Linked DNA regions of Homo sapiens. The protein of the gene in region 1 binds, or shares a complex with, the protein of each later gene. Each region holds a gene or a part of one and is shown on either strand. Other genes may lie near its edges.

Region 1 (7,031 bases):
GAGAAATCTGGAAGATCCTACCTTAATCAAGTGAACAAAGTTAAAATCATTAGTAATAAAATATATTGGCATCTGTAACCCCAATACGAATCAGTGAGAACAGCATAAAACATTGCTTCTGTGGTATTCTTGCCAAAAATGTATAACCCAATCAGACGTCATACAAACTCAAATTAAAGGAACTTCTACAAATACTGACTAGATTGTTCAAAAGTGTCAATGTCATGAAAGACCAAGAAAGATTGAGGAGACTAAGGATACAAGACAACTAAACATAACACGGAGCTCTGGATTGATTCCTACACCAGAAAAAGGACATTTGTGAGAAAACATCAAATAAGGTCTACAGATTAGTAGACAACATCGTATCTGTGCTAACTTCCTGGTTTTGATCATTGTGCTATGGTTATGTAAGATGTTAATATCAGTGAAGGCTTGGTGAAAAATATTGAAGAATTCTTTGTACTACTTTTGCAATTTTTCTTTTAAGCTTAACATTATTTCAAAATAAAAATTTAAATATTTAAAACCTAATAGTTTCAAAATTTTCCCAACCATAGCTCATTATAATTTGCCAGTTAAAAATTTAATTTGAGCACTTTATAGTTAATAAAAGACAATGATTTATTTTTTCATTTTTTATTTTTTTGAGTCAGAGTCTCACTCTGCTGTAAAAGATAGAGTGCAGTGGCACAATCTCAGCTCACTGAAATCTCCCCGTCCCAGATTCAAGCGATTCTCCTGCCTCAGCCTCCTGAGTATCTGGAATTACAGATGTGCACCACCACGCCTGGCTAATTTTGTATTTTTAGTAGAGACAGGGTTTCACCATGTTGGCCAGGCTGGTCTCGAACTCTTGACCCCAGGTGATTTGCCCACCTCGGCCTCCCAAAGTGCTTGGTATTACAGGCATAAGCCACCGAGCCTGGCCAAGACAATGATTTTAAAAGAGTTTTGATAGCAACTTCACTCACTTTAAAAAATGTTAGATGTAACCCACATAGCAAATTAAGAATGTTGGTTCCTTACTTTAAGTACCACATAGGGTCAGCGTCACTTGTAACCTTTTCATTGGCTTTCATTATCTTCTTTATCTGCAGTGGAAAATGCAACATTAGCAAAGACTCTGGCTTCCAATTAATCCTTAGTTTATGTCTATTTCTAACATCTGATGCTTACCTCTACATTAATGAAATAGTTAAATGAATCTATATGCTGTTTCACAAGGCCTTTCACCTAAACAGATAGAAAGAGAAAGTAAACAGGTTAGCAAAAGTGCAAAGAGTACTGATGATATGCTCAAATAATAGATCATATAATGGAATCTAATAATAGGTGAACATCAAATTTTTATCAAAATCAAAATGAGAAAAATAATCCATGAATTTTATTTAATAAATCTTTTCATTAATGCATTCTCATTCCATTTCTGCATCGTCTTACTAGCATATCCTCGAGAGTTTTCCTCCTTGAGAAGCAATCTGACTCTCGGAAATCAAAATATGAGTACATGAATATATGGTCATGTGCCACATAACAACATTTCATTCAACTACAGACCACATATCTGACAGCAGTCCCATAAGATTATAATGGAGCTGAAAAATTCCTATCGCCTAATGACTTACAACTTGATTTGATTTCATAGAGTGTATTTCTGAAAAGAATGACCCCTCCTCAAGAAGAGCCTCCGGCAGGTCCTTCAGCAAGTATTCTAGAAGAAGGTATTGTTATCATAGAAGATGACAGCTCCATGTGTGTTACTGTCCATGAAGACCCTCCAGTGGGACAAGGCATGGAGATGGAAGACAGTGATATTGATGATTCTGGCCCGGGCTAATGTGTGTATTTGTATCTTAGTTTTTAACAAAAAAAAAATTTTTTTTTTTTTTTGAGACAGAGTCTCGCTCTATTGCCCAGGCTGGAGTACAGTGGTGCGATCTCGGCTCACTGCAACGTCCGCCTCCCTGCATCAAGCAGTTCAGGTGCCTCAGCCTTCTGAGTAGCTGGGATTACAGGTGCCCGCCACCATGCCCAGCTAATTTTTGTATTTTTAGTAGAAACGGGGTTACACCATGTTGGCCAGGCTAGTCGGTCTCAAACTCCCAACCTCAAATGATCCGCCTGTCTTGGCCTCCCAAAGTGCTGGGATTACAAGCGTGAGCCACTGTGCCCAGCACCCAGCACCTTCTTCTCCATTTATGTGCAGCTCCTTTTAAAAAATAACAAAAAGGCCAGGCAAGGTGTCACATTCCTACAGTCACAGCTACTCGGGAGGCAGAGGCAGGAGAATCACTCAAACTCAGGAGTTCAAATCCAGCCTGGGCAATGTAGCAAGACCTGGTCTCTTAGGGGGAAAAAGAAACTTCTTGACCTTACGACCATTTTATTTGATTCTTGGTCACTCCCCAACTTAGAAACTCCTCAATAGCTTCCTACGGCTTTTAGAAGAAAAGCCAAATCCTTAACACGGCTTTCAAATCTGATCAGGAAACTGGCCCTGACAACTCCCAGCCTCGTTTCCCAGCACTCTCCCCTCTGCCCATAACACGCAACTGAACTCTAGAGTAGAGTCCAAAATGAGTAGAGACAAAACTCTACTCATTTTTCTTTTTTTGAGACGGAATCTCACACTGTCGACCAGGCTGCAGTGCAGTGGCGCGATCTCGGCTCACTGCAACCTCTGCCTCCCAGGTTCAAGCTATTCTCCTGCCTTATCCTCCCAAGTAGCTGGGATTACAGGGGCCCGCCACCACACCCAGCTAATTTTTTGTATCTTTAGTAGAGACGAGGTTTCACTATGTTGGCCAGGGTGGTCTCAAACTCCTGACCTCGTGATCCGCCCACCTCAGCCTCCCCAGGTGCTGGGATTACAGGCGTGAGCCACCGCGCCCGGCCTCATTTTTCAAGTCTCCATTCTTTCACTTAGCACAATGCTTTCAAGATTCGTCCATGTTGCAGCGGGTACCTGCTTTCTTTTTATTGCCAAATAATACTCTGTTGCACAGATACATCCCATTTTGTGTATCCATCCAGCAGCTGATGGCCATTTGGGTTGTTTCCACTCTTGGCTATTATGAATAATACTGCTATGAGCATTTGTGTACAGGTTTCTGCATGGACACATGTTTTCATGTCTCTTGGACAGATATCTAGGAGTGGAATTGCTGGAGGATGTGGTAACTTTTTGTTTAACCATTTGAGAAACTGACAGCCTGTTTTCCAAAGTGGCTATAACACTTTACGTTCCCACCAGTGGAGCATGATAGTTCCCATTCCTCCACACCCTTATTAACATTTGATTTTGATTATAGCTATCCTAGCGGGTGCCAAGTGGTCTCTCACTGTGGTACTCATTACTTCTTAGCATAAGCTCTTGGAAATTGAATTGAAGCCCGACACCACATCATATCATATTCAGCAGCTCCTCTTGACTGGTCGCTATTTCCTGCAGACTCTGTGGAGGCTCCTCTTGAACACCTTGATTGAGCCACGCTCTCTGCACCCAGCTTTCAGGCTTAAACCTTCTTCTCTTAAGATGTGGTTTATGTCTCACTTCATTTGGGTGGCCCTCTCTGACCATTGCTCTTTTGCTGATAGCACTTTGGTTTTTAATCATGTGCCATGCTACTGTGCATGTACTACTACTTCTCTCTAAAATTAGACTACCACTCTCCAAACCAGCACCTTTCAGGCAGGGATTTTACCTTATAATTCCTTGTATTTCCAAACACAGCTATACAAAATCAAAAAATGTTGATGACAAAAATTTAATCTTTAAAAAATGGCTTATTTCTTGACTTTTTCATCTGAAAAATAACCAATTATTATTAAATGTGAAACAATTACCTTTAAAAATGCTGGAAGCAGCCTCCATTTTTCCTGTGAGCCAAAACAAGAAGAATATCAGAACTCTGTACCAGCAACAGTACTTTCATAAGTTATTTTAATGTTCCAAAATAAGCAAAGGAAAGTAAATCAAAACAAAAAGAATAATTTTTAAACATTTTTATGGAAATCACATGTGTGCATATGCATATAAATATGTATACACATACATACATACACTACAGGTTTCCTAAACAGAATATAACTTAATCTCTTCCTGATGACTCAAGATTTTAAGCACTTTTCAATCCTTTATTTTATTCTCATGACACTTCCTAAGTGAAGTTTGCCAGTTTGAGAAAAGGAAAATAAGGCTCAGAGAGTCTGGTGGGAGAGCTGGGTCTCAAGACCCAAAGGGAGTTCTTTCTCCCTCCCATTCTCTCTCAACTACTGTCTGGTCAGAGCTCATCTCAGGGCTACAGAAGGATGACACATATGGTGATTGCTTCCTACATTGCCTGAGCAACTAGAGGGATAGAGTTAAAATTGATGGAGGCGAGGAACATTGTAGGAATAGCAGGTTTAGGTGTGGAGGGGCTACTAGAAATTTGGTTTGGGTGTGTTAAGCTTGAGATCTCCATTAGACATTCAGGTGGAAATGTCAAGGAGGCAACAAATGAGTCTTGAATTCGGGAATGGAGTGGCCTGGAGATATAAACTAGGAAGAGATTAACAAGTGGATGGCAATTAAAGGCACGTGATGGATGAGATCACCTATGGAATGTAGATGGAGAAGAGTTCCACAAAGTGAGACCAACCAAGAATAATCCAACAATCAGAGAGGAGGAGCAGGAGGCAGCTCCAGCAAAGGAGACCGAGGAGTGGCCAGGGAAGGTGGCAGACCCCTGGGTATAGTCAAAAACAAGAGAGGCAGGCAAAGCTAATCTATGATGACGGAAATCAAAAGGTGCTTGGGGGGATAGACTGAAAAGGGTCATAAGGGAACTTTCTGGGGTGATGCAATGTCCACATAGAGCACATAACTATAAAACCAATGTAACTGAATATCTAGTATCCATACATTTTATTATATAAATTACACCTAAATTTAAAAATAGAAGAATGACAATGATATAGGTTGAATTGTGTCCCTCTCAAAATTCATATGCTAAAGTCCTAATCCCCAGTATCTCAGAATGTGACTGTTTTTGAAGATGGGGTCTTGACAAAGGTGATTAAGTAAAATGAGTCATTAAGGTGAGCCCTAATCCAATACAACTGGTGTCCTTATAAAAAAGGAGAAATTGGACATAGAGATGCACACAGGGACAATGCCATGTGAAGATGAAGGTAGAGGTCTCAGTGAAGCTTCTGCAAGCCAAGGGATGCCAAAGATTGCCAGCAAACACCTGTAGTAGGGGACGGCCCAGAGCAGATCCTCTCTCATAGCCCTCAGAAGGAGCCAGCTCTGTTGTCACCCTGATCTCAGACTTCTAACTTCCAGAACTATGAGAAAACAAATTTCTGTTGTTTAAGCCACCTAGTTTGTGGTTACTTTGTTACGGCAGCCCTATGAGCTAATACTCCCACATCTTCAAATTCCTCTCTCTACACCCCTTCTTATACTCGTTTCCTCCCACTTCAAAGGAAGGACCATCCATTCCTTGGTCTAAGGCTAACCCTTCCGCCACAGACACAATCCTGCCAACCTTCTCCTGAAGACTGGAAACCTTGCCCCAGTTCAGTCCTTGATATTCAACCTGTTCTATTTAAAACGAGTATTCAAATCCTCCCATTAAAAAAAAAATTTAAAACTTTCTTGACTCAGCAGCTCCTCTGACTACTTTCTTCCCTGCCCTTCAGCTTACGATCTCTCCCAAATTACTCCATATTTAGCTTCTCTGTTCCTCACTTCCCACTCCTTCATTCCGTTATAGTCAGGACTCTGACCTACCTGCCAGTGAAAGAGCTCGACAGAGGTCACCAAGGCTGCTACTTCAAAAGACCTCCCTTGATGCCCCCTCACATTCCCTTTCCACAGTATTTGGCCATGCCGATCACTGTCTTATAACACTCTGTGGTATCATTCTCTTATGTCTTTCCTTCCTCCGGCCGGGCCTTGTCACACCTCTTTTTCTCTGCCACCCTGCAAATTTTGGTGTTCTTCAAAGTTCTATCCCTGGCGATGTCTTTTCTCAAGTAGGGCTGGGAATGGAGGATTTCAAACAACACTGTTTGAAAGTGTTGTTTAGCTTCCCCCATCTCATCCCACAGCCCCCCAGTTCCAAATGTGGGCTCTTTCAAGGGCAGTGACCCTGTCTATCCTGTTACCACAGTGCCTGGCACATAAAAGACTCCAATAAATACTGAATAAATAAATGAGTGAGTGAATATCACTGTTGCAGTAAGCTACTGGGTATGGGCCTGTCCCCTCCAACTATTGACTGGGCAGTGATACCTTACAGCCTCAGAGGCTACTTAAGATCAGTATGTCCAAAATTAAATCTTCCCCCAGCTCCATTCTCAATCTCAATGAATATCACCATTTATCCCAGTCAATCCCAAATTAGATACCCGGGAGTCCTAACTTTCTGACTCTTCTTAATCAACAGGAAAACAAAAATTCTACTGAGTCGACCTCCTTTTAACCTTCCTCGCATTTATCCTCTGCTCCTGTGCCAGTTGAGGCCCTCATAATCTTTCAGCTGGTCTGCGGCAATACTTCCTTACTACTCTTCCTGCTCGTCCCTTTCAATGCTCAGCACTAAAGCCAGTGTACATGTCCTCATGTGCACAGCTGAGCACCTCATTCTCTACAACTCTTCAGTGCCTCCCCACCCTCTTCACCATGTCTTAACTCCACAGCGAGGCATACATCATATGCTGTGCTTGCAGCTGTACTTGTGCCTACGCCTCCTCCTTCTATCTGGAATGCTTCCGCACCACCACACTTCATCCACATCTGGCAAACTCAGTTCAGGCATCACATCCTAGCTACCATTTGTAATACCAAAATACCCCTCGCCTACTTGTATCACAGTACCTATTGCATGTTATTCCACTTGCTTACACGTCTCTCTCTATAAGCCTATAACACACTGGGAGGCAGAAAACACATTTTTTGAACTTGTATAAACCCTGTGAATAATACACCACCAGGTAAGTACTCAGTAACACTGACAAATATTTATTCAACAAGTAAC
Region 2 (4,690 bases), on another chromosome or scaffold:
GAAATTCTCTCTCTGACACTGTGCCTTCTCAGTCAAAATTTGTTGAATGACATTAACTTTTCATGTCCCAGAGATAAAAGATTGAATGTCTTGTACCTCCTTGGCTTCCTGTCCATTCTACTACATTTCTTTTTCTCTTTGTTTTTGTCTTTATTAGGTTTATTCACTGGATCTCTGAATACCCAGGCCCCCTCCACCATGGCCAGCCGGGGTGGGGGCCGGGGTCGTGGCCGGGGCCAGTTGACCTTCAACGTGGAGGCCGTGGGCATTGGGAAAGGGGATGCTTTGCCCCCACCCACCCTGCAGCCTTCTCCACTCTTCCCTGTGAGTCTCTCCACTCCCTTCCCAGACTCTCATGTGCCCCTGGCTGACTGTACATGATTCTGAATTCCTCCTGGACCATCATAAAACCATCCTCGCTTTGGCCCTCTCTCTATACTCCCAATGCACAGGGATGTTTTGCAGGCAAAGAAGTGTCCACCTTTACTTCTCCCCAGCTTTCAAAATAATATGTTACTCCCTCGATTGTCATTTGGCCCTCTGCTCAGTGGGAGTGTTAGACTAAATTGGGAGGAGGGGTCTTCCTAAATTTGTACTAGCATTTTCTCCCTGAACTGACCACTGCCCCTGCCTCTTTAGCCCTTGGAGTTCCGCCCAGTACCTTTGCCCTCAGGCGAGGAAGGGGAATATGTCCTGGCACTGAAGCAAGAGCTACGAGGAGCCATGAGGCAGCTCCCCTACTTCATCCGGCCAGCTGTCCCCAAGAGAGGTCAGTTGGAATGCTAGCATCATATTCTGAGTGCCTTCCATGGGGAGTGCCCTGTGCTCAGCACCACTGGGGGCCAGAGGGGCACAGGAAGCATACTATCTAACTGGGGAGATCATAATAGTTACCCCTGTATCTGAAATGCATTATAGTATTCATGGTTTGTTTTGAGTCTCATGATAGTCTTGGGACAGCAGGAGGTTAAATATTAAAATCCCATTTCACGTGTATAAGTAGGGGGATGTATTTTCTAAAAAATTATATATTTTTTATTTTTTTGTAAAATAGAGATAGGGTGTCCTTATGTTGTCCAGGCTGGTCTTGAACTTCTGGGCTCAAGAGATTCTCCTGCCTTGGCCTCCCAAAGTGCTGGGATTACAGGCATGAGCCACTGCGCCCAGCAAAATTTTTAACAATCTGGATATTATAAGCACCAACCAACAAGAGAATACTGAAATCCTGGTTTCTTATTCCCTAGCATACTTTCCACTGCACCACGCTATTTCTTAATACAGCCATGCCTTTGAACTAAGGGACAGAAAAAAAAAAAATCATCATGGCCGGGTGCGGTGGCTTACGCCTGTAATGGCCAGCACTTTGGGAGGCTGACATGGGTGGATCACTTGAGGCCAGGAGTTTGAGGCCAGCCTAGCCAATACGGTGAAACCCTGTCTCTACTAAAAATATAAAAATTAGCCAGGCACAGTGGTGTGTGCCTGTGGTCTCAGCTACTCGGGAGGCTGAGGCTGAGGCTGAGGCATGAGAATCGCTTGAACCTGGGAGGTGGAGGTTGCAGTGAGCTGAGATCTTGCCACTGCACTCTAGCCTGGGTGACACAGCAAACCTCTGTCTCAAAAAAAAAAGGCCAGGTGTGGTGGCTCACACCTAGAATCCCAGCACTTTGGGAGGCTGAGGTGGGCAGATCACGAGGTCAGGAGTTCAAGACCAGCTTGGCCAACATAGTGAAACCCCGTCTCTACAAAAAATACAAAAAAATTAGCCAGGCCTGGTGGCAGATGCCTCTAATCCCAGCTGCTTGGGAGGCTGAGGCAAGAATTGCTTGAACTTGGGAGGCGGAGGTTGCAGTGGGCTGAGATCACGCCACTGCACTCCAGCCCAGGCGACAGTGCGAGATTCTGTCTGAAAAAAAAAAATCGTAATTTTGGGTGGAAAAGGAACAGGTTAGAAGAGTGATAAGGGGCCGGGCGCAGTAATTCACGCCTGTAATCCCAGCACTTTGGGAGGCCGAGGTAGGTGGATCACGAGGTCAGGAGATTGAGACCATCCTGGCCAACATGGTGAAACCCCGTCTCTACTAAAAATACAAAAATTAGCTAGGCGTGGTGGTGTGTGCCTGTAGTCCCAGCTACTCAGGAGACTGAGGCAGGAGAATCGCTTGAACCTGGGAGGTGGAGGTTGCAGTAAGCTGAGATTGTACCACTGCACTCCAGCCTGAGGGACAGAGCGAGACTCTGTCTCAAAAAAAAAAAAAAAAAAAGTAGATAAGGTCCTCACTGAAGCTGACCCCCTGGGCTCTGGGTTTGGGGTAAGGAAACAGATAATTCCTCAGTATTGAGAGGGCTGGACTCTCAGGAACAGTCCTGTTCTGGGTCTCTGAAGGGATAAAACTTTGACCCTTCCACCCCTCAGATGTGGAGCGTTATTCAGACAAATATCAGATGTCAGGTCCGATTGACAATGCCATCGATTGGAACCCTGGTAGGTGATGGGCCCTTTCATTGACTGCCCTTCTTTCAAATGCATGGGATGCTTCAAGCTATTCCCACCACGCCCATGACCCCACCCCATTCCCCGATCCAGCATCTGCAAGCTAGAGCCTTAGTTATGGTCCAACACATTCTCAGATTCTACCTGAAAAAGCTATTAAATAGTTCCCACTACTCAGGAGATATCCAAGCCACTGAACAACTTTGGCCCAGCCCCTTCCTTCCTCTCCTTTAAAACCCTCACCCCCCTTTAAAACCAGTCAGTATTCACTGGAGACCCCAGGCAGGGTCCTATTGACATTTACGTTCCCACTATTCCCAGATTGGCGGCGTCTACCCCGGGAGCTAAAGATCCGAGTGCGGAAGCTACAGAAGGAACGTGAGTGTATCTGGAAAAAAGGAGGGAGAAGAGAGGTTTCCTTCATCAGCCTGAGGGCCGAGGCTGCTGCTGGTCTCACCTTCCATCCCAGTTCCTATACCCAATCTACCAAGTGTTGTTGCTAGATGTCATAGTGGCCACATGAGGGCAGCAGAGTGACATGTTCTTTGCATGAGGATGGGCTATAAAGCTGGCAAAATTTGCTCTCTGAAGGTTTACCTTTTGATCCCTCCACCAGGGATTACAATTCTGCTCCCCAAGAGGCCCCCTAAGACCACAGAAGATAAGGAGGAAACAATACAGAAACTAGAGGTGAGGAGGAAGTGTGCATAGAGACCTCCTGAGCCCTGGATCCATTCCCTCTCTCTTGGCCCATGTGTGCCTCAATTTTTCCCTTCTGTGAACTGAACCTGAGTTTCTATTCCTATTCATCCCCACATGAGACCCTGGAGAAGAAGGAAGAAGAAGTAACTTCAGAGGAGGATGAGGAGAAAGAAGAAGAAGAAGAGAAGGAAGAGGAGGAAGAAGAAGAGTATGATGAAGAAGAACATGAAGAGGTGAAGGGGACTCCTTCCACCTTAGTCCCCCTCCCTTTACCCTCTTTATACTAGGGTTGCTCTCCTCAGAGGGTTGGCATGCCAACAGAGATAGTGCCCCCCAGGGTAGGGGCTTCTCTCTACTTCATCTGCCCCCCTTCTACAAACTACAGCTGGAAGAGATGTCTCAGGCCTGGAATGGTGTGACTGAGAGGAAAGGGGTCTGGTACACAGGAAGGAAGGTGAATGCCAAATTGACTTTTACTTTTTTTTTTTCCATTTCAGGAAACTGATTACATCATGTCATATTTTGACAATGGAGAGGACTTTGGTGGTGACAGTGATGACAATATGGACGAGGCTATATACTGAAGAAGGACTCTGGACCCTCGTGTCTTTCTTTAGGATACAGAGAGTAACTGTACCTATTATTTGTTTCTTCAGACAAGCAAATCATTTGGTCAGAGTTCATATAATCTGTCTGTTCCCTGGAGATGGGAATAGAGGATGATGACAGTTTATTTTCTACACTTCCCCTCCTTCCACATTTGTATCACCTTTGCTATCTTGGGGAAAGTGCAAAGGACAAACATCTCAATTGTATGAAGGGAGAAAGGAGAATTGAAAGAAGAACTGGGGTTGTTAGAGCTGAGATGACTGTACACATACCCCTGCCCAATTTATATAGCTCTTTGTGGAGATAATTAGGGGTGGGAGCAGTTTGAAGGAGTAAGCCTGGTTTTATACTTTTAAATAAAGTGTTTTTATCTGTCTCTCTGTTGTGGGTGAGGCCTGGTGACAGAGGGCTGGAGGAATGAAGGAAATGCTTAACTAAGCCGGGTCTGGTGTGACACACTGGAGGGTTACAGCCCTACAGCCCGCTTGTCCTTTGTCCCTTCCCTTCTACCCCCATGGTGGGACACATATTCACAATCGAGCCCAGCCAAGGAATATTCAAGGCCTCATCTGTAGGGCAATGCAAAGTAAATTGTAGAGAACAGCCTACGCCCCCTGCAGTACAGCTGACTTCTGAGCCTCTGGTCCTCAGGCCACAAGGACATGATTGTGTCTGTTCACACATGTTCACAAGGACATAGGTCCTGTCTTTCCCACACTTGACCTTGATCTTGTCCTTATTTACAAAAAATGATTACAGCTATTTTTGTGGGGAAAGGCAAGAAAACCAGGTATGAGGAGGGAGGAGGAGCTGACTTATTCACCATACTCCCTCCTCTTCCAGACTCTGGAGATGCCACTTTGAAAGGTATGTCTGTGCAGAGCA

What was found. Proteins that work in one complex are often made in the same cells at the same time.
Region 2: POLR3B (region 1) and POLR3GL share a complex: the UniProt entries of both Homo sapiens proteins name them as parts of the RNA polymerase III (Pol III) complex.

What each region holds. Positions count from the first base shown.
Region 1 is NC_000012.12:106,360,721-106,367,751, reverse strand, and holds part of POLR3B (DNA-directed RNA polymerase III subunit RPC2), read right to left. Parts: intron 3,883-7,031; coding exon 3,850-3,882; intron 1,237-3,849; coding exon 1,180-1,236; intron 1,095-1,179; coding exon 1,030-1,094; intron 1-1,029. UniProt on the Homo sapiens protein: Catalytic core component of RNA polymerase III (Pol III), a DNA-dependent RNA polymerase which synthesizes small non-coding RNAs using the four ribonucleoside triphosphates as substrates.
Region 2 is NC_000001.11:145,974,668-145,979,357, forward strand, and holds the end of POLR3GL (DNA-directed RNA polymerase III subunit RPC7-like), read left to right. Parts: intron 1-157; 5' UTR 158-198; coding exon 199-324; intron 325-639; coding exon 640-769; intron 770-2,416; coding exon 2,417-2,485; intron 2,486-2,815; coding exon 2,816-2,872; intron 2,873-3,110; coding exon 3,111-3,184; intron 3,185-3,315; coding exon 3,316-3,429; intron 3,430-3,693; coding exon 3,694-3,780; 3' UTR 3,781-4,181; downstream 4,182-4,690. UniProt on the Homo sapiens protein: DNA-dependent RNA polymerase catalyzes the transcription of DNA into RNA using the four ribonucleoside triphosphates as substrates. Specific peripheric component of RNA polymerase III which synthesizes small RNAs, such as 5S rRNA and tRNAs.